Linked DNA regions of Homo sapiens. The protein of the gene in region 6 interacts with the protein of the main gene of each other region in a pairwise test. Each region holds a gene or a part of one and is shown on either strand. Other genes may lie near its edges.

Region 1 (2,548 bases), on a different chromosome or scaffold from region 6:
TTTGATAGGGAGAAATTTCTAAGACCCATGGTAATAAAAGTGCAGCTCAAAGACATGGGACCTCTTGTCCTGCCCCATTTGCTGTTGTTTATGCAGCAGGAGAGAATAGGTCAGAACCAACCTTTGCACACTAGCTTTCTCCCACACAAACGGTCCATTTTAGCCTCTCTGTCCCACTTGCTATGTAAAGAGGAGGCCAGTGCTCGGCATAACTGTTCTGGTAGCGATGCTTGTTACAACTCATGATGAAATGTCCCAACGCAAGTGAGGACGCAGCTGCCCGCCCCAGAGCTAGAAGGTAAGGTGAGTTCTCTAGGAGTACATCTGCCCGGATGCATTTTCATTCCGCAGCCTTGATGAATGGGACGAGGCTTTGTTGTGACTGTTTTTTAAGCAGTCCCCCAGGGAATCACTGAAAATACCTACTTCTTAGAGAAAAGTTTCAAGCTCCCCTCCTCTCTTTTGTGAGGCAATACAAAATCCATCATCCAAATGAAAGATACTTTTCACAACAGCCTTTATTGCCTGCAGACTTACATGTATAGTCCTTTAAACAATTAACTGTTTAGAAAATGGTTGTTTCTCTCAACCCTTGAGCCAGTTATTCCACGCTGGTAAGACCCTTTCACAGAAATGTAACAAGGTGCATTTTATAGAAAACATCTAATTAAATCACCAGTTTCATGCTTTTAAGTTGTATCTACAAGTGCAAAACTGCAACACCCAAATGTTTTTAGTATCTAAGTCAGATATCCAAAAGTTAGCTCCATAATCAGAAATGCGCACACCACTGTTCTGATAATAAAGGCACATTTTCCAATAACCAATTATAACAAGAAGTGCAGCATTACCTAAATTGGGTGTGTCATCTTCCCCTCCTGGGTCACAGGATGACACCTGGGGATGCGATGCCGTGCCTGCACTTGGCGATCCCAGGAGCACAGAAATGCACCAGACAGATCATGAAGGGCTAATGCTTGGAAACCACACCATTTCCTGACAGAGTGAAGGAATCCCTGTGGATTTATCAAAAGGGAGGAGGGAATTTAAGCTAATTCTCTTCACCTGCTGTATTCTCAAATCTCCAAAACACCAGATAACTTAGGTTTTTTCATTTGTCATAGAACAAAGATTAGAGAACTTGAAATTCGTTTTGCATTTCCACTCCTCAGGGATGTCAAAAAAGCCAGTTCTGTTCCAGCACAAAGTAGAAAGTGGTGAATTGGCAATACGCCAAGACATAGACTGTTACAGTAATTCTTTTTGTTTCACAAAAGTTAATGGAAACAAAACAACTTTCAGATAATATTCATTTGTCAGTATGTATAATTTGCCATCCAAATGCTTTTTAAAAAGTTATTATCTTATTATTACACATTAAATTTACATGGAGTTGTCTCCTAATCCTGGGATTTTAACACCAAATGTTTAATTCTGAATACAAAGAAACATTCACATACTTAATTTTACAATATTCTGGAACAAGTTATATTCAAAAGTCAAATGAACAGAGAACATTCCACTTGCAACCAACACATAGCTGTTAACAAAATTAACCCCATTAATATTTAAAGACGGATTTATCCATTAATGCCTGTTTTAATTGTCACTTGATTTTGATGGTTAGAAACTTTGGTTATGGTAAAAATGATCACATGAGTGGGAATTCATTACCTCAAAGCTCAGGACCACAGCTCCCCATGTGCATGTTTTTCTGTCTGCAGTATTTCAAGGTGAGACAACAAAATAGACACCTAAAATTGTATGAGATTTTATTCCTGGTGCTTTTTCAGCGAGAACCATTTTTCCAGACCTAGGGAAGGAGCCTGTGTGTTTTTGGCCTGAAGGATTCATCAATTCAGAGCATCTGTGACAGCCAGGAGGAGGAAAGAAGGGAGGCTGGGATCACCTCCCGCCCCTTCTAGCATCTCTACTGAGAGTGACAACTCCAGGCTGTCCACCCCCATCCTGAGCCTTCCACACTCTTCTCCGTGCCACTAACACTCAGTATCTGACGCCTGCAGTGCGAAGCCTCCAGAGTCCCCAGACTGACCTGGGCACTCCACCCTTGCTGGTTCTACTTTACTTGGACACACGGGTACCTTAAGGCTTGTCACACTCCAACACCTTTGTGTGTGTGTGTCTTTATTTCTTTCTAGGTTATAAACTCAGGCAGAGGCCTCATACATTCACTTCTCTATCCCACCATCCCAGTACAGGGCCAGCCACATATTAACTAATGCACAAATGAGGCCAAGAAACTGGCTAGAAATCCCAAGAAACTGTGCCAAGTATATGCAGCTGCACCTGGGAATACACGAAAGCATGACATCACGAGCACAGCCTCCTCCACCACACCTTCCCTTTCTCCTCCTTCCCTGCTGGCCTCAGACAGCTATGCATGGCTGCATGAAGGAAGATCTAAATCTGGACTTGTTTTATCCTCCCCTTCCCTTCTTCTCACCTTTATTCTGCCTCCACCTTCTTCTTTCTTTGTCTTCCCCCACTGGCTTCTCTGTCATTTCCCACAGTGGGTTCCCCCAATCCC
Region 2 (3,500 bases), on a different chromosome or scaffold from region 6:
GGGATTACAGGAGTGAGCCATCATGCCCAGCCCATGCTAGGTAATTTTAAACCAGTAAAGAATGAGCTGGGTTTGACACAATGGACCTCACCTCTATGAGTCACAGACATGCCTTTTCCAATCTCAAGTTAAACCACATAGAAACTTCCTGTTTAGGAAGTAGTTGAAGTGAGAAGCAAAGTCAGGAAAGCATATAAAGAAAAGCTAAGCTTTCATTCATATCCTTGAATGAAAACAAGCCTGTTTGAAAAATGCATTAAAAATCTAATATTAAATTGTTTCAGTTCAGAAACCTTGCTCTGCTGCACTTTAAATAAATCTCCCACTGTTGTTTTGGTTTTGTTTCCTTGACCTGGGTACCAGACTGTCTTGGGGGCACGCCTGGACCGAGGGGCAAGTAAAGGAGGAAAGCTGTGGGAAGCCATTTTCTGAGCATCTAAGCAAAAATAGCTAGAGGCTTCCAAGTATAAACGAATTTTGCATACTGATTAAGTAACTCCTTTAAGAACCTAAAAACATCCCAAGTAACAGAGAATAAACTGAATCAAACATACTTGCATTTTCCACCAAAACTTTGGGCACACGCTGGCGGTTCATTAGGAGTGGGAAAGGATCTCTCCCATCATTCCGTTCGTGGACCTCTCGAATTTCCACCGTATCATCCATAAGATAGTAATGAATGATGTAGGTCCGACATTCACCATACATGCTGTCTGTATCATCCCAGATTGCATAGAATCGAAGGACCTTTGAAGAATCCAAAGTAGTGACTCAAGAATCCTAAAAGTAGGGAGTTCAACTTGGCTACTTTGGCAATTATGTATCAACGATGGAAAGACTAGCTGGAAAGACTATGAAGTAATTTCAGATGGGGTAAATTGAAAAAAAAAGAAATATTCATCAAACATACTAAAACATCTGAAATTATGTACTATATGTCAGCAGCTGGAAAGAATTAAATAATAGGATTATAAGTTTGTGCCAAAAAAGAAGAGCTCACTTTGATCCAAAATATTAGTCAGTGAAAGAGAAGCTAAATTAAAAGAGCAATGAAGTTCTTTACATAGTGGTATATATATATTAATAAAGGTACATGTGAATATGGTTTATATATAATTAGTGTAGAAAAAATTTTTATTTATTAACCAGTCTTTTTTTGGTCCCATCAACACATATCTTCTAGCAATAATATAAACACAATCTTTTTTTTTTTTTTTTTGGCTAGGCTTCTTCAAATCGTGGGAATAAACACAATCTTTAAATACAAAATAATAACAGATATATGACTGATATGAACAAAATCCTTAAAAGACCATGCTAGTGCTAGTTTACATTTTCTGAACTAAAAGGGGTTAAATGTCTAAAGAAAAGGAGCAGCAAAGAAGCACTGAGGGTGATCTCTTCCTTTTCTTTCTCCCTTTAGTACAGAAAGGGAAGGATTTAAATCTGCTTATACACATCAGCTCACAAGGGAGAGGATTAGGAAGGTTGGAACAGAGTTGGAAAATGCTCAGAACATTCTGGACTCCAATATTAATATAACATTTAACAAGGAAGCATCTGTAGTGGGGCTTCTGTGAAATTAAACATTTTAACATTACAACCTACATGTATGCATATTTGTGAAATTTCCTAATAATCGATTTATGGTTTCACAAAGGAGTCTATGAAATTAGCTCATTTTAAGGGAAAGAAATTGTCAATTGGAAACGTAAGGTGGGAAGCAGATGTAGCTCAGGAATTGCTTTGAGATTTAAATGTTTGGTGAGGTTCACAAAACAACTCCGCAACTCCACGATCTTCTTTGGATCTCCATATGAAATGTAGGCATTCCTGTACCTGTAACCCTTGATGAAAGCAGAAAGACAGTACTGTGTCCAAACAGTTCAATTATAGCTGTAATGTTTCAAAATAGTTACCAATACAGCTACCCAAACCTTTTGCCAATAAATGTAGGTCACATTTGGAAATAAGTAAGCCTATTGTGGTTCCTATGTCACTTACCTGTTTGTCAAAGGTGAGAAATTGCTTGAGTTGATCAAAGTCTGATGGGGTGACATACTTACGAAGAGGCTGTTTTCGGAGTTCAGTGTAAGGATCAAGAGCCATCTTCTCTGGTGGATTTAACTCAATTCCTTGGCTTTCTAAAAATACCTAAATAATTGAAAGTTAACAATGATCATCTTTCTTGGAGCTTTTCAGAGTAAGTTATAAACTGATTATATAAAAATAAGTGTATGGGCCAGGCACTGTGGCTCAGGCCTACAATCTCAGCACTTTGGGAGGCTGAGGTAGGAGGACTCCTGAAACGCAGGAGTTCACAATCAGCCTGAGCAACATAGTGAGACCCTGTTTCTACAAAAACATTTAAAAGTTAGACTGGTTTGATGGCATTTGCCTGCAGTCCAGGCTACTCAGGAGGCTGAAGTGAGTAGACTGCTTGAGCTCAGGAGGTCAAGGCTGCAGTGAGCCATGATCATGACACTGCACTCCAGCCTGCGTCACAGCAAGACCCCGCCTCAAATAAAGAAAAAAAGAAAGAAAAAGTGTAATAATGATTTCTATGCCATTGCTTAAGTTAAACATTAGTTTGCTGCTTGAGCGCATGTAAGCTGTATTAAGTCTCCAACTGAGCCAACTCCATAATGCAGGTAATAATTGAGAGTTACCTGAAGTATTTTATATTGTTATATTGCTAGGTATTTGCTAAGCTAGTTGGGAGGCACAATGGCAAAATAACTGTTTTCAAATAATTTAAATCAATCAAATTTAGTTAGGTGCCTGTAACAGAGTAAGTCTTAGGATTGCTTACTTTCATATATCTGGAACCTAACCATGGTTTCAAACAATATGTAATTCCTATTAGGTCTGGAGGCAAGATGCACAATGGCCAAGTTAGGCTGAAATCATATTCCCAATTTTCTAATTCACTTAAAACAAATACTGTATATGATTAAGTCCCTTCCCCTCACCAAAAAAGAAAAAAAAGAAAGCATACCCACTGGTTATATTAGACCAGAAAACGTGTTAGCAAAATAGGAAAGACAAACCAAGTGCTCAAATTTCACCAGACATTCCTGAAAGGGACAGTGAGAAAGCAAACAACTTGGAAAACATATTTCAGGATATTGTCCACAAAAACCTCCTCAACCTCGCTAGAGAGGCCAACAATCAAATTAAGGAAATACAAAGAATCCCTGCAAGATTCTATGCAAGGAGATCATCCCCAAGCCACATAATCATCAGATTTTCCAAGGTCAAAATGAAAGAAAGAATGTTAAAAGCAGCTACAGAGAAAGGGCAGGTCACGTACAAAGGGAACCCCATCAGGCTAACACTGGACTTCTCAGCTGAAACCCTATAAGCCAGAAGAGATTGGGGGCCTATATTCAACATTCTTAAAGAAGAAAAATCTTCAACCAAGAATTTCATATCTAGCCAAACTAAGCTTCTTAGCAAAGGAGAAATAAGATCCTTTTCTGATAAGCAAATGCTGACAG
Region 3 (3,500 bases), on a different chromosome or scaffold from region 6:
CGCTTGAACCCCGGAGGTGGAGGTTGCTCTGAGCCGAGGTCACGCCATTGCACTCCAGCCTGGGCAACAAGAGCGAAACTCCATCTCAACAGAAGGAAGAAAAAAAAAAGAAGAAAAGGTAAATGGCTGATTATTGATTTTGCTTTACAGACAGGAATTTGCTGTTGCTGGCTATGAATTCTGCATTTCAACTCTAGAGGAAAAAATTGAAAGAGAAAAGGAATTAGCAGAAGACATTATGTCAGGTAGGAAACCCATTATCTGGGCATTGCCTTTTCTCCACAAAAGGCTTTACTTTACACTTTTGAGAAATGGAAAGAGATCTAAATTGGGAAGAGGGAAAGTTACCTATTTTGCAAAATAAGTGTCTGTCTTTAAGGTATCAGCAGAAGTTTTGGAATAAGATGTTTTATTTAAAATATTTGACTGCTGTTTTGGTGGTGGTTTTTTTTTTAACCCCCTTGGTAACATGGTCATAATTTATTTGTTAACTTTTAGTTACATATAACTTAAGGAAAATTGGGGAGCAGAAGGAGAAGGTGTTTCTCGTATCTCTTAGTTCAGCTACCAATCAAAATGCTTATTACGTTTTAGCCCTAGATATACAGCAAATTAAGAAAGAAGAGAAAAAAAGCTCATGTTTTTACAATCCATCCTCACTCATTCTGGAGGCTAGGAATAGAACTGGATGAGCAGGAAGCTCTCTAGCTCTCCACCATTTTGGGTTTCTTAATTTGGGTTGAAGTATTGAGAATTTTCAGATTTGACATTTATTCAATACCTACTCTATACCAAGAGCTACCGAGATGGTAGGGATACAGCAGTCAACTCTTCTGTACCTAGTGGTCTTCTAACTCTCTCTTGAACATAGAGTAGTCCCCCGTTATCCATGGGGAATATGTTCCAAGACCCCCAGCAGATGCCTGAAACGACTTCTAATACACTGTGTTTTTTTCTTATATATATGTACCTATGATAAAGTTTAATTTATAAGTTAGGCACAGTAAGAGATTAACAACAATAACTTTTAATAGAACAATTATAACTATATACTGTTAACAGTGTCACAGACAGGAGATTCATTCTTATTGTAGATCTTATCAACCTCAGCATACAGTTTTTTGTTTTTTGTTTTTTGTTTTCTTACTAAGTTGAGAACTTTCACCTTTTCATTAAAAGGAAGCACTTTATGACTTCTCTTTGTCATATTCAAATTGCCAGTATCACCACTCTCACACTTTGGGGCCATTATGTAAAATATGGATTGCTTGAGCACAAGTACTGCAACATTGTGGGTTGATCTGATAACTGAGACTGCTGCTAAGTGACTGAGGCCAGCTGCCGTATACAACTTGGGTACACTGGACAAAGATGATTCATGTCCTGGGCAGGATGGAGTGTGACAGTGTAAGATTTCTTCATGCCACCCAGAATGGCATGCAATTTAAAAACTTACGGATTATTTCTTGAATTTTTCATTTAATATTTTTCGGACTCTGGTTGACTGCAGATAACTGAAACCCCAGAAAATGAAACTGTGGAGTAGGAGGGATCACTGTACACCAATTTTTTTGTTTTCATCACTCCACTGAAGCTACCTTTATCAAAGTCACCAAATCCAATGGTTACTTCTCAATCCTTAACTTACTCATCAGCAGCTTTAACTTAGGGGATCACTGTCTCCTACTGAAAATACTTTCACTTGGCTTCTGGGATGCCTCACTGGTCTCTCTAGTGAGGTGAATAGACTTCCCTACCTCTTAATGTTGGCACGCCTTAGGGCTGTTTTCAGCCCTATTCTCTTTTCTCTCTGCCCCAACACCTAGGAGATATCTTTTAGTTCCATAGTTTTAAATATTAGATTTATACCTTCAGCCCCAACTTGCCCCCAAATGGCAGACTTATAATTATGATTGCCCACCCGACATCTTGACTTGAAGTCTAATGGTCATCTCATACTTAACATGTCCAAAATAGGTCTCAGTTTTGCCGCTCACAACTTGTTTCGTCACCAGTCAGCCCCAGATTTGTAAATGGCACACTACTCATTTAGTTGCTTTGGCCAAGAACCTAAGAATTGTCCATGATTTCTTCCTCATTCCTCATATCTAATCCATCAGCAAGTTATACTGGATCAGCCATCAAAATATATCCATACTGACCATGTCTCATCCCATTACCCTACTGCTTTGGTCCAGGCCATCACTGTTTCAAGACCTCAGTACCTTTGTATCACCTTTAGAATAAATTTAGAATCCCTGCATGGACCTGTAAGGCGCTTATGACCTGGGCCCACCCACCTCTTCCATGCCATCTGCTGCTCTCCCCTTGCTCGTTCCAGTCTCACCACACTGGTCTTATTCTGGCACATTCCAAGCTTAGTGCCACCTCAAGGCCTCTTTGCTTGATATTCCCCCTACCTAGACTGTTCTCTCTTACCTTTCTCTGGCCAACTCCCGTACTTCACTCAGGTCTCTGCTCAAATAGCACTTCCTCAGAGTGCTCCCTTCACTAAAACTATCATCTCTTCCCACCTTACTATTGCTCTACTCCTCTTTCCTTTACTTTTCTTCATCACACTTAAAAGTAGAGGTGTGTGTGTTGTGTGCTTGTGTTTCTCCACTAAAAGTATGTTTTTGTTTAAAAATTTTTAGTCTTTGTCTTCCATATCAAAGAAGGATAGAGACTTCATCCATTATACTCAGTGCTAAATCCTCGGTGCCTAGAACAGTGCCTGGCACATAATAGAGGCTCAATAATTACTGAATGAAAGAACAAAAGACCCAAGAAAGACCAGCAAATAAATCCAGTTTCAGTGCAGTGTGGAAGTGCTTTGAGGAAATCCACAAGAGGTGTAAAAACAAGTCTAGCTGTCAAGTAAGTCACTTCTGAACTATTTACACCTTTGCTGTCTTTCATTTATAGTGTTGACTATGGTTTCTTAGGAGTGTAAAGCTATATTTTCTGATTCAAAAAATAATACCAGTAAACACTGAAGAAAGTTTAGAAAAGCACTAAGTAAAAATCATCTGTAATCATACTATTAAGAAAGAGCTACTGTTTTATTTATTACTACGGCTTTTCGGGTTACATTTTAAGAAATAAATTTGGGATGATACTGTATATCCTACTTTGTAACCTGAGTTTTAACAATTTAGTAACATATTATGAAAACACTTTTTTTTTCCAGGCAAAGGAATTCTTGTTAGATAGAGCAAGCTAATTTCTATTATAAATATTATTTTTACATTTTACTAGTTGCACAGTATAGAAAATGTGTTACATGATTCTTCATCTTATTTTTTCTAGAAAAGGAATTCCTACCTATTCAGTTTTGCACAAAGCAAATCCATTATCAAATTTACGTGCTTTTTATTGACACAACTATCTCTATTCTAGGATAACATTACTTAATTACATAAAATTACATTACTTAATTACATAAAACCTTGCTCTAGGATAATTATTTTGTTACCTATGTTGTAGACATATATGTACTT
Region 4 (3,500 bases), on a different chromosome or scaffold from region 6:
CCCACCTGAATTAGATGAGCGTCCTGCTGGCTGCAAGGCTCAATTACGGGCTCTTATACTTCATCAGTGCTCAACAAAAACCTCCTGATCTGAATGTTAAGTAAAGGTTTTGGTCTGTTAGGAAATCTCAATAGCGATTTAGTTATACTTGTCATTATACATTTGGATTCTTTTAGGAGATGATGCATTTTTACTCTACTTGTTTGGGGATTTGAATTAACTATTTTGAGGAAATGAGTAAGTTTTCCCCCTTAATTTTATAACTAAGTCAAACACAAGGCCCAAAGAGTATCTCAGGTCCAGTTCATCAGAGGTGGGTGATAAACTGATGAAATGAACAGGCATTTACCCTCAGCTTGCTATAATTCCAGTGGCCACGAGAACCACCTTGGGCTGTGCCTTGGTGTCATACCTTAAATTGCTTCCCACAGGTGGAACACAGGAAGTCTTTGCGGTCCGAATGCCGGAGCATGTGGAGTCGCAGTTTATCGGGGCGACAGAAGGCCTTGTCACACTCTGTGCACTGGTAGATCTTTTCTGAGTGGAAGCTGCGCACGTGTTTTTTCACCTGGTGATAAGAACCACAGGAAAATTCAGGGGACGCAGGCACCAAATGAAATGACCAAAGGCAGCTTGTCAACGCTAGAGGGAGCCAAACGCATTACCATGGGTTTTCATCAACCCCGCCGAGGAATCCAATCAGATGTGATAATTGGCCTCAATAACACATACTGTCCCTGTCACAAAGAAATAAAACAAGTAGCCAGAAAGCCTTAGAAATCCGAACCTCCCCGATGACTTGAAACGTGAGAGAGAGAGAGAGAGAGAGAGAGAGAGAGAGAGAGAGAGAGAGAGAGAGTGCTTGCTTGGTCAAAGCCCTGATCACTTGAAGCCCATTTTTTAAAGATAAAAAGCAAAAGTTCCTTTGGGTTTAAATGAAATCTTGCTAAAAAGGATCTATAGGAAGACAAAAACCAATTCTTCCTTACTTTTCTCCGTCTTTAATCTGCACAGAAGCAATTTAGCCCCTTTTGATCCTTTTACATCTTCTTATAAAATTAAGTTCTGAAGAATTAAAGACATGAATGAGTGGATACAGAAGACATTACCGGTTTGTGAGAGCAATATGACGCTGGCGTCACTTCTCAACTGGGACTTACTTCCCTTACTTTTAGATAAATAAAGGAATAGGGCTTCTGAACTCTCTTAGCCACACATATCCAATGAGAAAGAGCTGAGGATGGAAGCTAAGTAGTGAGTCTTACCAAACTATTCCTATAAGATAGTTTGCTTCATTATTTTTGGAGTTTCTTTTGCCATTAAATTATGCCTTAAAGCAATCTTTCTACTAGTTTGTGTGAAGTGAGAAAATTTCCAAGACTCTCAACACTAGCAGAACTAAAATTAAATCCCTAGTCTTCTTTTCCTTTGGTAATTGAAAAAGTGTATTTTTACAAAATGTTTCGTTATTCACTGACTAGCACAGGAAAATCTTATCACTTAAAGTCCAAATGAAATCATGAGTATTCTGAAATTTATCTTCACCCATTTTGCTCCAACAAAGAATACACTACAGGGGAGGAGGCAGTCGGTTCCTGATACAAAAGTATATTATATACCAACTTTCTCTTTGTTTCCTTCCAAAATGTATGGCCTTGGTTAAAGCAAGCAGGAAACCACAGTAGTAGTAGGGAGATGTTCCCAGCCCCTCAGAAACGGGAGTATGTCTTCTACAGGCTCGGTATATTTTATAAGCAATAGACATTGACATGGATTATGAAAGACTTTTTAAAAATTATAATAGATCTGGGTGTTTATTACTTGTAACTTAAACACTTCAATGTCAATGTCTGATCTGGACAATTAAGGGTCATAATAATCTTGTGTATAAAAGTAGTTTGATTGAAGAAATATTGTTCTCAATTGTAAAGTTGTTTCAAAGAAGGGATGGAAATGCAGGTGCTAGGCAGTCTCGGTTTTCCAAAAATCGAAGTTTCTTTTACCAAAAGAAGGAAGCAGACAGGAATCTCAGTAGTAGACACTCACCTGGATAAAATCTGGGAACCGTTTCTTACAAGTTGGGCAGGTGAAGTAGCCATCATTGATATGAATGGCCACATGATCTTTCAACAAATCAAGGCGGTCAAAGGATTCTGGGCAAAAAATGCAAGAGTAAGTCTTCTGGTCTGAGTGGAGCTTCATGTGGCTCTCCAAGGATGTGCTGCTGATGAAGCCCTTGTTACAGAGATCACAGGTCAGTGGGCAGTTCCCCTCCCGCCCATGGAAGCGTAAGTGCTGGTCCAGTTTGTCCTTTTCCCGGAAGGCCTTCCCACACTGCAAGCATTTAAAAGGCCGGAAGGACTTCCGAATAAACAGATGCTGAAGAGCTGCATTCTGAAAGACATACACAAATGTGATCATTTAGTGATGAAATTAAGAGTGCAACTGGATCACACTTTTACAGAGAAAGAGAGGATGATCTCTGCAATCACAGACTTCCCATAGAAGTTCAACTCTAGGACACACACAGTTGAAAGGAGATTTTTCTGGTGAAGACACTGAAAATGAAGCCATCCTCAAAGAAGCTCATCTTAAAGAGATGAAATTTTTTTGTGTTTTGTTTTACATCTATGTATGTGGGTTTTCTTTTGAAAGGGTTTAAGTAACAAAAAAAGTGTTCCCAATAGAAGACTTGTATAATAAAACAAATCCCACAGTGGAACAGGATAAAAATGGAAGATTTGGAGGAAAAGACTTAGGTTAAGTCACACATGCAGGAATCAGGCTGGAGCAAGTCAGTCAAATGTTACTTGTTGAAATCCATGAGAAAAAGAATTTGAAGCTTGATTAAAACATTTAGCAAAAACAAAACAAACAAACAAACAAACAAAAAAACAATAAAAAGAACTGAAGGGTAGTCCTTGCCAGCGGCAGGATGGAGAAGGAAATGGATACCAGGTTTCTTTTGGGGGTAATGGATACCAGGTTTCTTTTGGGGGTGATGAAAGTGTGCTGGAATTAGAGAGTGGTGAAGATTGCACAGCTTCAGAATGTTCTAAAAACCACTTTAAAGGGTAAACTTTATGCCACGAGAATTTCTTGAAAGGATTCAGATTTATGTGAATGGGACATGAGCACATGTCGTAAATGGAATATATGCATTTCATCACTTTCTACTTAGAAAACAGAAGGTAAGGTTCCAGAATAGCTAGTTAGTTCTACTGGTTAGAATGCCATGCTAACAACGTTAAGCTCATCACACTGTTCCTGCCTCGACCAGGCAATTCTGCTCTTTGTTTTCAGGCACAGATTGCACTTGTAATGCTGATTGGCCATCTTGTAAATTCATGCAATTGTTATAGGGCATCCAAGTGGGAGAGTACGGGTACTCAGTGCAAACCCATCGCCACTACTGGAAAATCTACTCATGCTCTACTGACAGCAGATCGACAAAATCACCTCACACAGAGAATGCAGAATCAATCTTTCAGTTATGCTTA
Region 5 (3,500 bases), on a different chromosome or scaffold from region 6:
AAGCCGCAGAGGCTGAAGAGCCGACATTCCAGTTCTGTGAACCATTCCGGGTTTTCCCCATAATCTAAGACCATCTTCCCCCTCCCCCACTTTCCAAGCCGAGAGCTCTGAAACACAGACCTAAGGGTCTTACCCTTTGCAGGGTCTGAGCCAAAGGGAAGCTCCAGGGCGTGAGGCCAGGCCCTAGCATATAAAGAGTCAACTGTGACAGGCCTCTGGAAGTTGGAGGGGAAGGAGGATTAGAGTGCCCGCCCTAGGCATCCCCTGCTAGCCAAAGGGAAGCATGCCATTTCCTCAGGCCACCAACTTCAAACTGCAGGTCAACAGTCCAGTTGCAAAACCCATTCACAGTAAGTCTGCAACCAGCATCTTTTTGGTTTTTTTTTGAGATGGAGTCTTGCTCTGTCGCCAGGCTGGAGTGCAGTGGCCCGATCTCGACTCACTGCAACCTCTGCCTCCCGAGTTCAAGCGGTTCTTCTGTCTCAGCCTCCCAAGTAGCTGGGATTACAGGCACACGCCACCACGCCCAGCTAATTTTTGTATTTTTAGTAGAGATGGGGTTTCACCATGTTGGCCAGGATGGTCTCGATCTCTTGACCTCATGATCCGCCCACCTCAGCCTCTCAAAGTGCTGGGATTACAGGCATGAGCCACCGCGCCTGGTCCTTTTTTTTTTTGGAAACAGGGTCTCACTCGGTTTCCCAGGCTGGAATGCAGTGGTGCAATTACGGCTCACTATAACCTCAAACCTCTGGGCTCAGGTGATCCTCCCACTTCAGCCTCCTGAATAGCTAGGACCACAGGCGTGTGCTATCATGCCTGGCTAGTTTTTGTATTTTTTTTTTTTTTTTTTTTTTTTTGTAGAAACAGTTTTGCTATGTTGCCCAGGCTAGTCTCAAACTCCTGGGCTCAAGCAATCCTCCCACCTCAGTCTCCCAAAGTGTTGGGAATACAGTCCTCAAAGGGGCTGTATTATGTGAGGGTGTATAGGGGCCTGCAACCAGCATCTTTAGAAAAGATCTGAATGTGGCCGGGTGCGGTGGCTCACACCTGTAATCTTAGCACTTTGGGAGGCCAAGGCGGGCACATCACCTGAGGTCAGGTGTTCAAGACCAGCCTGGCCAACATGGTGAAACCCTGTCTCTACCAAAAATACAAAAATTGGCCGGGGGTGGTGGTGTGCACCTGTAATCCCAGCTACTCCACTTGGGAGGCTAAGGCAGGAGAATCACTTGAACCCTGGAGGCGGAGCACCACTGCACTCCAGCCTGAGCAACAGAGTGAGACTCTGTCTCAAAAAAAAAAAAAAAGATCTGAACGCCCTCTAAGTAGGAAGTACTCATTCATGAAAGCTTCCATTCTGTTTTCCCTCTACATAAATGTATGCCTGTCAGATGGGTCAAGACGTACAATGTATATTTTACTGTAGGCTGAAGTCAGAGTTTGAAAGCCACCATTTTGGGCATGGCTGGTTCTGCTGTCTGTGGGCTGCCTGTGCTTCTGAAATCCACCTGACCCACCACTGCAGCCCACTCTATGCACGGCCCAGCCAAGCTCTTAAAGGAGCGCCCTGCTGAGGTGGCCAGGTGGAGGGTAGGAAGGGATGTGGAGCCCAGGGAGTGGGTGCTGAGACCACCGGAAAGCCAGGCTCCCCCGGCAATCTCTATCCCCAGTTCCTCAGCCCAGAGCAACAATGGGCAGCTCACTGATCCCTTCCTGTTCCAGACACGAAGACAGCTGCCTGCCTAAACCCTCCCTGGCAGGACCTCCTAGGCCAGGCTGGCTGGGCAGCCCCTGCAGTTCTGTGTGCGCATCCCCCATGGTTGCTGCTCACCGCAGTGCCCTGCCCCCGCATGCCTAAAGCCACACAGGCTGCTTGCCTGTGGCTCTGCCAAGCAGGAAACTGAGGCCTGTTCTCTGGCCACAGGTGCCATGGAGGGCACACGATGCTGGGGACAGTTGATCCCCTGCCCACTCTCCATGCCCACCCCTGCCACAGCCAGATGCCACTGACCATCAGGGAGGCGGGGGGTGTGAGCCAGGGGGTGCAGGGCTGGCGGGTGAAGCTGGCTGGGGTTTTTACACAGGAAGGAAGAGCAGGCTGATGTGGGGGAGGAGGCCAAGGAAGGGCGGAAATGACTGCAATGTCAGCACCCAGGCGCAGACCAGGGGAGGCCAGGTGCTCCCCGCCCCCCAGTTTTGACCTTTGTGCTAAGATGAGACATGCAGTCTTCACCGATACCCACGATATCCAGAAAAAAGAACAACAGTCAGAGAGAGTGGGGGCTGATTTAGCACACAGGCCCCCACAGAATACAGTCCCTTCAAGAAGAAAATGCTATGCGTGCTGGTGGTCTGGGGGTACACAGAGAAGAGGCATCTGGGAACCCCAAGCTCTTCCCCAGGCCCACCCTGGAGGGCAGGGGTAGTGGAGGCACTGGCCTCATTCACATCTGCCAGGCTTGCGTCTGCCAGGCTGGCAGGAAGGGGACCAAACAGAGGGCAGCAGGGATGCCGCAGGGCAGGGCAAGAGCTCACGTTACTGATCTGGTCCTGGGTCTTCTTGATTCTCTGGAGCTCGGGCGTGTCTGCCACTACGCTGAAACCTTTGCCCTTGTTCTTCTCAAACTCCTCCTTGTAGCGCACCTGCAGGAGGGGAGGAAGAGGGATTGGAGTCAGGCCAGGAGCCGAAAGGGCCTCGGCTTGGGGCCCCTCTGAGGCAGCAACCAGTCAGGAGACAGGGACAGGGAGTCAGCAGAAAGACCCTGATCAGAAGTCCCCAACTCAAAGCAGAGGCCTCAGCCAAAAGGTGTTAGACTCGTAATAATAAGCCACTACCAAGTCTTTGGTGCACAGTGAATGGCAGGCACAGAGTCCAGGGCCTTACATGAACCATCTCATTTAGATCCCACCATACATATAGCCACGCAATTAACAGCTCCAATTTACGGATCAGGAAACGGAGCCACAGAAAGGCAAAGTCCCCTGCCCAAGGTCACAGAGCTTAGCAGTCAATGTCCGGCACTACCAGAGTGCAAACCCTCATCTGCCTGACTCTTGACCCTTCACTCCCTGCCCATCCTGTCTGGAAGCTTATAGGAAAAAGGTTCTTTCCAGGGCTCCCAGGGTGGCCCCAGCCCTCATGTTAGCCAGGATGTGGCCCTGCCCACTACGCCTGGGGGAGCTTTTCAGCAACCAGCTGAGTGAGGGCTGTGCCAAAGGACAGAGTTGGTGCCCAGAAAGGAGGGTGGTGAGACAGCCCCAGGGAAGGCTCCATCAGTGCGCCTTTGACAGGCCCCGCGGATTCTGGGAGCCTGCCGGGATGGCTTCAGAGGCCACCGCCATAGGAGGGGAGGAAAGCAGCGGGGGTCAGACAGCATCTCAGCAGGTCTCCAAGCTCCAGGGAAGAACCCTTCCACCCCACCACAGTACTAGAGGGACTCAAGTCAGACATCAGAAAGGACTTCCCTGGCACGAAAGGAATTGAAATATGAGGAACA
Region 6 (3,500 bases):
AAATGTGAACTCAAGTCATTAAATTTAGAGCCTATGCTTTTAAAAATTGAAATCTATTAGAAAATTGTACATGTGTTGTACATAAAAATGACATACACAAGAGTATCTACTAAATGTGGATCAACATTTTAAGGATGAAATACCAAGAAACAAAAAAATGTTAAGATAGCTAGTTTCCATAAGAAATTTTACGTGCAAACTTAAAAAATGTTTTAATTAAAAATTTTACAGTTCTATAAAACTAGAAAAGCTCATGATAGAATATAGTATAATAGTTTGTTAAATTAGTATTTGAACCAGAAATCCAGTTCCAAAAGAAAATATTGCCTTTTCAAATGCCATAAGCTATAGCAATAAGTCATATTTTTAAAAAGCAAGACATGCACATTATTTACATAACAATTTTACTTTGCAAAGTATTAAATTTTGAAACACTAAATTTAGAAACATAGTTAAGCCCAAATTCCTTATTTTACAGGCAATAACTAATAAAACTGATAATGTATTTTGTACTGTTTTTATTTAATGACATTGAGAGTCTACTTAGCTATCACAACATTTATAAGTATCCCAGTATTAGCATTCTTATGCTTAATCTTTGAAACAGTGCATAAAAACACATCTGTACTCTGTACAACTGAAAGGTCAAAATGTTATGATACCAACACTTGTGTTACAGCAGCATACTCTACTGGCACTATTGTGTAGGCAATATGAGAGCTACCTCTTCAAAATCCATTTTTACAGCATTATAAATGTAGCATTCAAGATATTAGTGTCTCTCAATTGCAAAGATGAGTAATCAATATGCAAAAAAGATAAATTTGTAGCTAGATGTTCCTGGTAAGTTTAAAAACAAACCTATGTGAACTCTGTGAATGGATAAACAAAGTGTGGTATAGACCTACAATGGAATAAACTCAGCAATAAAAGAGAACAAACTGGCCAGGCGTGGTGGCTCACACCTGTAATCCCAGCACTTTGGGAGGCCGAGGTGGGTGGATCATGAGGTTGGGAGATCGAGACCATCCTGGCTAACACGGTGAAACCCCGCCTCTACTAAAAATACAAAAAATTAGCCAGGCGTGGTGGCGGGCGCCTATAATCCCAGCTACTTGGGAGGCTGAGGCAGGAGAATGGTGAACCCGAGAGGCAGAGCTTGCAGTGAGCCGAAATTGTGCCACTGCACTCCAGCCTGGGCGACAGAGCAAGACTCCATCTCAAAAAAAAAAAAAAAACAAAAAAACAAGCTATGGGTATACACTCCCAAATGAATGTATCTCAAAACCATGTTGAGCAAAAGAAACCAGATACAAAAGTATACTGTATGCTTCCATTTACATGCAGTTTTAGAAAAGATTAATCTCCAGTGACAGAAGGCAGATTAGTAATTGCCTGAGGCAGAGGCAGGGTAGGGAACTGAGCGAGAAGGGGACCAGGGAAATTTTAGGGGGTGATGGAAATGTTCCATAGCTTGATTGTGGTTATGTAGCAGGACATATTCGGGTAGATTTTATTGTATCTCAATAAAAGTTTATTTTAAATATTTTTAAATGGCACATAAAAGAAAAATAAACAAACTGGTCAATAAGCCAAAGTTCAAAAACATTTAGTCACATAATAGTTCTACTACAGGGAAGAAATTCTACTTACTTCTCAAAAAAAATCACTGTTTATGAGATTTTGCTTTGAATCTTCTCAATGTGTGGAAATACAATTACTACTGCATCAGAATTACTTTCATCTCTGCACAACATGGTTAAAAACTACTGACAGGCAAGAATCATGACAGATACCCGTTTTTACCCAATGCAAGATTCAGTGTAAGGCTGAAACCCCAGCTCAAAGCTTCTTTTCTATAAAGCCTAACTTCATCCTCTGCAATGGAGGGAATATTTCTCCTCTCTAAATCAGTGCAAGACTTGACCTATACCTTTCTTATGCCCTTAAAAGTTTTAAAATCTTACATGATAATCATTTATGTATGCCTCTTCTATCCTATTAGACAAAGTTTCAAATGAAGTCAGAAGGGATGTCTGATGTATCTCCACTAGGTGTTGAACCTAGTAGTGATATTTATTATACATTTTCTCAATTAACATAAATGACTGAAGAATTACTTAAAGTCCTATTGAACAACCAAACATTTAGATACTTTTACAAGTTACTGAAGAAAGCATAAAGTAAACGTTAATAAAAAGAAGTTCTACTTTGGTAATGATAGATGATAATCTGTAAACTGGACCAATTCAACCATGAGAATAAAGTGGACAAAATATGAAACAAAATTTCTCTAATGACATTAGAGAGCTAACAAGGTCATGAAAAACCATGCGACCAAGATATGAGAGAAGAAAACCCACAGTTCAGAATGAGAGGCCACTTTTATCTGAATATAGCCTGACAATTTTCTAAGAGATGGTTAAGAAGATTGAGATGAACTCTCAATAAACTATAGGGAAAAAATAAAGGAGTTGAGAGTTTGCCAAGGATGTGGGATCTGATAAATACCCAAGGCTTTGGGGGATTTGAGGTCTGAAAGAGCTATACCCTAGGAGTAAGGGTGAACTGGAAACATATCAGATTTCAGGGATGAAAGCCCAACTTCAAATAACCTAAATCATTCACTGATTTTAGGTGACCTGGGATTGCTAGTGTACCCGGCCACTAGCCAGAAGAAAATTTTCTGCAGGGAGATAATATTGTAGGCCTAAAATCTTTACTCTTTTTCACAGAAAATGACTGGTATTTTATCTTAAATAACCACACATATGAGGAGGCAAAATAAAAAATTTTTTTTTAAAAGAAAGCAACAGGCAATAAAAACATACCACAAAGGATCCAAATAATGAAGTTTTCAGACATATAATTTAAAGTAACTATACTTAATATATTCAAGGAATTAAGATTGAGAGTTTACTGGAGAACTTGAAACTGAAAAAAAGGAATCAAATTCTAGAACTGAAAAATATAATAAATTGAAATTAAGAATATAATCAAATTTATCAAAAGTTTTATAGAAAACACTTTGTGTCTTGTCTTTTTATACCTCAAGGATTAAAATGTTTACCAACATAGTCTACCAAAAGTTTTTAAAATGTTGATTCACTTTTAAAGCCTTTAATCCATCTTCAGCTGATATTTGTATATGATGTGAGGTAGGGAATCCGACTTAATTAAATAACTATTTTTTTTTCAAGCTTCATTTCTCAAACATTTCCTCCTTTCCTCTTGATATGACATGCCACCTCTGTCATACACTAAAGTCGCATATTTCCTTAGCTCTGTTTCTGGGCTCTCAATTCTTTTTTCAATAATTATACATTTTTATTTTATCTTATAAAAATTGGGTGAATATGTAGATTTAAATTGACAAAACTGTGTATTGAACAGTTTTGTCTTTTATAGCTTAGAAGAAAGATTTTGGGCAAAAATGAAATCTCTCTTTTGGAAATGATTTATTTCTATTTTATAATACTTCTGAGCACTGTTGCAACTTC
Region 7 (2,499 bases), on a different chromosome or scaffold from region 6:
CATTCAGTTTTTCAAAAAGGTCACGTTTCCAAGTAGTATTTGGCATGTTCCATCAAGTACTGAATTGGTACTAGGCAGATGGATCTAAGCAATTGGTATTAGTAAGTTAACAGGTAAACAGAATAATATTTACCTTCATTTTAAAAGAAGGTATTTAACCACATTTCTCACTTGTAAGTGGGAGGTAAACATTGGGCACACACATAAAGATGGGAACAACAGACACTGGAGACTCCCAAAAGTGGGGAGAGAGGGAGTAAGCGTTGAAAAAGTGCCGACTGGGTGCTATGTTCACTACTTGGGAGACAGGCTAAGCAGAAACCCAAGCTTTAGCATCACACAATATATCCATGTAACAAACTTGCACACGTACCCCTTGAATTGAAAATTTAGAAAAAGGTATTTAAAAAATAAAGTCTCCATTTCCGCAATCCTCTTGAGCTATCAGTATAAAACAGCACTTTGACAAACTCACATTAAAGGCCAATAACCACCATGAATACAAGACTTAGTTCTCATTTATTTGTGATTTTGCAGGTGTTCAAACCAATGAATGAAAATCAATTATCTCTTCATATCAATGAAATTCACTATTTCACTATTATCTTCAGAATCATAGTGATCAAAACCCTACCTGAAAATGGTAATACAAAAGAGAACTATTAATACAAGGTTTCAGAAGACTGTGCAAGTTAAAATAATTGGCATTAAAACGACACACAACAAACCACCGAAGGTTTGGTCCCTTTTCTCTCTGATATGTGGCCTCTGATCTCTTTCTTAGGGCAGTGGTTTTCAACGTCTGTGTAGCAGAATCACCTGAAAAGCTAACAGAATATATAGAAACCCAGGATTTGTATTTGTATTTAAATGTAAATACAAAAGGTCTGGGTCTCTGTATCTTTACAAAGTTCTCCAGCAATGGTTTCCAAACCAGGCTTATCACAATCACCAGGGAAGCTCTGAAAACAACAACACATTCCTAGGCTTCATCCCTAGAAATTCTGATTCAGTAGGTTTGAGGTCGGGACCCAAAAATCTTTTTCTTTTTGTTTTTTTTTTTTGGAGATGGAGTTTCACTCTTGTTGCCCAGGCTGAAGCGCAATGGTGTGATCTCAGCTCACTGCAACCTCTAACTCCCAGGTTCAAGCGATTCTCCTGCCTCAGTCTCCCAAGTAGCTGGGATTACAGGTGCCCGCCACCACGCCCAGCTAATTTTTCTTATTTTTAGTAGAGACGGGGTTTCAGTATGTTGGCCAGGTTGATCTTGAACTCCTGACCTCAGGCGATCCACCTGCCTCAGCCTCCCAAAGTGCTGGGATTACAGGTGTGAGCCACCACGGCTGGCTCAGGACCCAAAAATCTTAAAACATTTTTAAAAAATTTTAACAAACTTCCCAGGTATTCCCGACCAGCCAGATTTGGGAACCACTGACTTAGGACACTTATTTAAGGTCTATCACAGAACTTCAGGCCTCAGAGTTTAGTAAGAATATCGATAACTTTGGGTAGGTTATAAATCACCATCCTAGAGATAATTTAACAAATTAAATGGTCTAGTAGTGATTTGATACTAAAAAGCCCTGCCCAATTTAGTACTTAAATTACCTAATGATTTTCTGTCTATCTACTTTCCTCCCCCAGGCTAGGACCTGCACATAATATGTTTCCTATGACTAAGTGCCTACGTGTTCACAAAGTTGCCCCAGTGGAGGTTGTTAACTTCTCTCTTTTCTTCTTCCATTCAGATTCCCAAAGCTGTGAGGAGCAGACCTATTTCGAAGCATCACAGCCAGCTGATGTCACTTGCAGTATTATGCATTAAGACATCAACCCAGAAACCTGCAAATGGGAGACACTAGGCAATCCTATCATGAGGATTAAGCTCTTTGTGGAAGAAAATGCTTTCATTGCATGAGATAGGTAGTTTAAAAATGACTATTCTTTTTTCTTTTTTTTTTGAGACGGAGTCCTTCTCTGTCACCCAGGCTGAAGTGCGGTGGCATGATCTCGGTTCACTGCAACCTCTGCCTCCCAGTCTCAAGCGATTCTCCCACCTCAGTCTCCAGAGTAGCTGGGATTACAGACACGTGCCATCACGCCTGGCTAATTTTTGTACTTTTAGTAGAGACGGGGTTTTGCCATGCTGACCAGGTTGGTCTCGAATTCCTGGCCTCATGTGATCCGCCTGCCTTGGCCTCCCCAAGTGCTGGGATTACAGGCATGAGCCACCATGCCCGGCCAAAAAACTTGACTATTCTTGATGCCAAGACAAGAGAAACTTAATTATGACGTTAGAAGTTTCAAAAATACAGTGACTTCTGGGACACTTCTAGTAGCCAAAAATCCACAGATGCCCAGACCCCCTCCTTCTGCATTCCAGAATCAGATGTTTACATTCCAAGACAGAAAGAATCTGAAACAACGGCCTACAAGAAATTTGGGAAATGACATTTGATCTCATTTTCCTCTCAATTGGAAGTCATGATATCAATGAAT

What was found.
Region 1: the proteins of REL (region 6) and SHC3 interact in binary tests that used the Homo sapiens proteins (3 or more experiments, as listed by UniProt).
Region 2: the proteins of REL (region 6) and EFHC1 interact in binary tests that used the Homo sapiens proteins (3 or more experiments, as listed by UniProt).
Region 3: the proteins of REL (region 6) and TTC19 interact in binary tests that used the Homo sapiens proteins (3 or more experiments, as listed by UniProt).
Region 4: the proteins of REL (region 6) and PRDM10 interact in binary tests that used the Homo sapiens proteins (3 or more experiments, as listed by UniProt).
Region 5: the proteins of REL (region 6) and LASP1 interact in binary tests that used the Homo sapiens proteins (3 or more experiments, as listed by UniProt).
Region 7: the proteins of REL (region 6) and RAB29 interact in binary tests that used the Homo sapiens proteins (3 or more experiments, as listed by UniProt).

The regions. Positions count from the first base shown.
Region 1 is NC_000009.12:89,005,271-89,007,818, forward strand, and holds the end of SHC3 (SHC-transforming protein 3), read right to left. Parts: coding exon of another isoform or gene 2,248-2,548; 3' UTR 501-2,247; downstream 1-500. Other genes in the region: uncharacterized protein LOC124902206, read left to right, coding at 2,248-2,548. UniProt on the Homo sapiens protein: Signaling adapter that couples activated growth factor receptors to signaling pathway in neurons. Involved in the signal transduction pathways of neurotrophin-activated Trk receptors in cortical neurons.
Region 2 is NC_000006.12:52,451,342-52,454,841, reverse strand, and holds part of EFHC1 (EF-hand domain-containing protein 1), read right to left. Parts: intron 2,155-3,500; coding exon 2,005-2,154; exon of another isoform or gene 748-2,004; coding exon 555-747; intron 1-554. UniProt on the Homo sapiens protein: Microtubule inner protein (MIP) part of the dynein-decorated doublet microtubules (DMTs) in cilia axoneme, which is required for motile cilia beating.
Region 3 is NC_000017.11:16,006,324-16,009,823, forward strand, and holds part of TTC19 (tetratricopeptide repeat protein 19, mitochondrial isoform 1 precursor), read left to right. Parts: intron 1-150; coding exon 151-245; intron 246-2,654; coding exon of another isoform or gene 2,655-2,683; exon of another isoform or gene 2,684-2,741; intron 2,742-3,500. UniProt on the Homo sapiens protein: Required for the preservation of the structural and functional integrity of mitochondrial respiratory complex III by allowing the physiological turnover of the Rieske protein UQCRFS1.
Region 4 is NC_000011.10:129,922,836-129,926,335, forward strand, and holds part of PRDM10 (PR domain zinc finger protein 10), read right to left. Parts: intron 2,395-3,500; coding exon 2,047-2,394; intron 569-2,046; coding exon 413-568; intron 1-412.
Region 5 is NC_000017.11:38,897,558-38,901,057, reverse strand, and holds part of LASP1 (LIM and SH3 domain protein 1), read right to left. Parts: intron 2,647-3,500; coding exon 2,539-2,646; intron 1-2,538. UniProt on the Homo sapiens protein: Plays an important role in the regulation of dynamic actin-based, cytoskeletal activities.
Region 6 is NC_000002.12:60,912,574-60,916,073, reverse strand, and holds part of REL (proto-oncogene c-Rel), read right to left. Parts: intron 1-3,500. UniProt on the Homo sapiens protein: Proto-oncogene that may play a role in differentiation and lymphopoiesis.
Region 7 is NC_000001.11:205,767,486-205,769,984, forward strand, and holds the end of RAB29 (ras-related protein Rab-7L1), read right to left. Parts: 3' UTR 501-2,499; downstream 1-500. UniProt on the Homo sapiens protein: The small GTPases Rab are key regulators in vesicle trafficking. Essential for maintaining the integrity of the endosome-trans-Golgi network structure.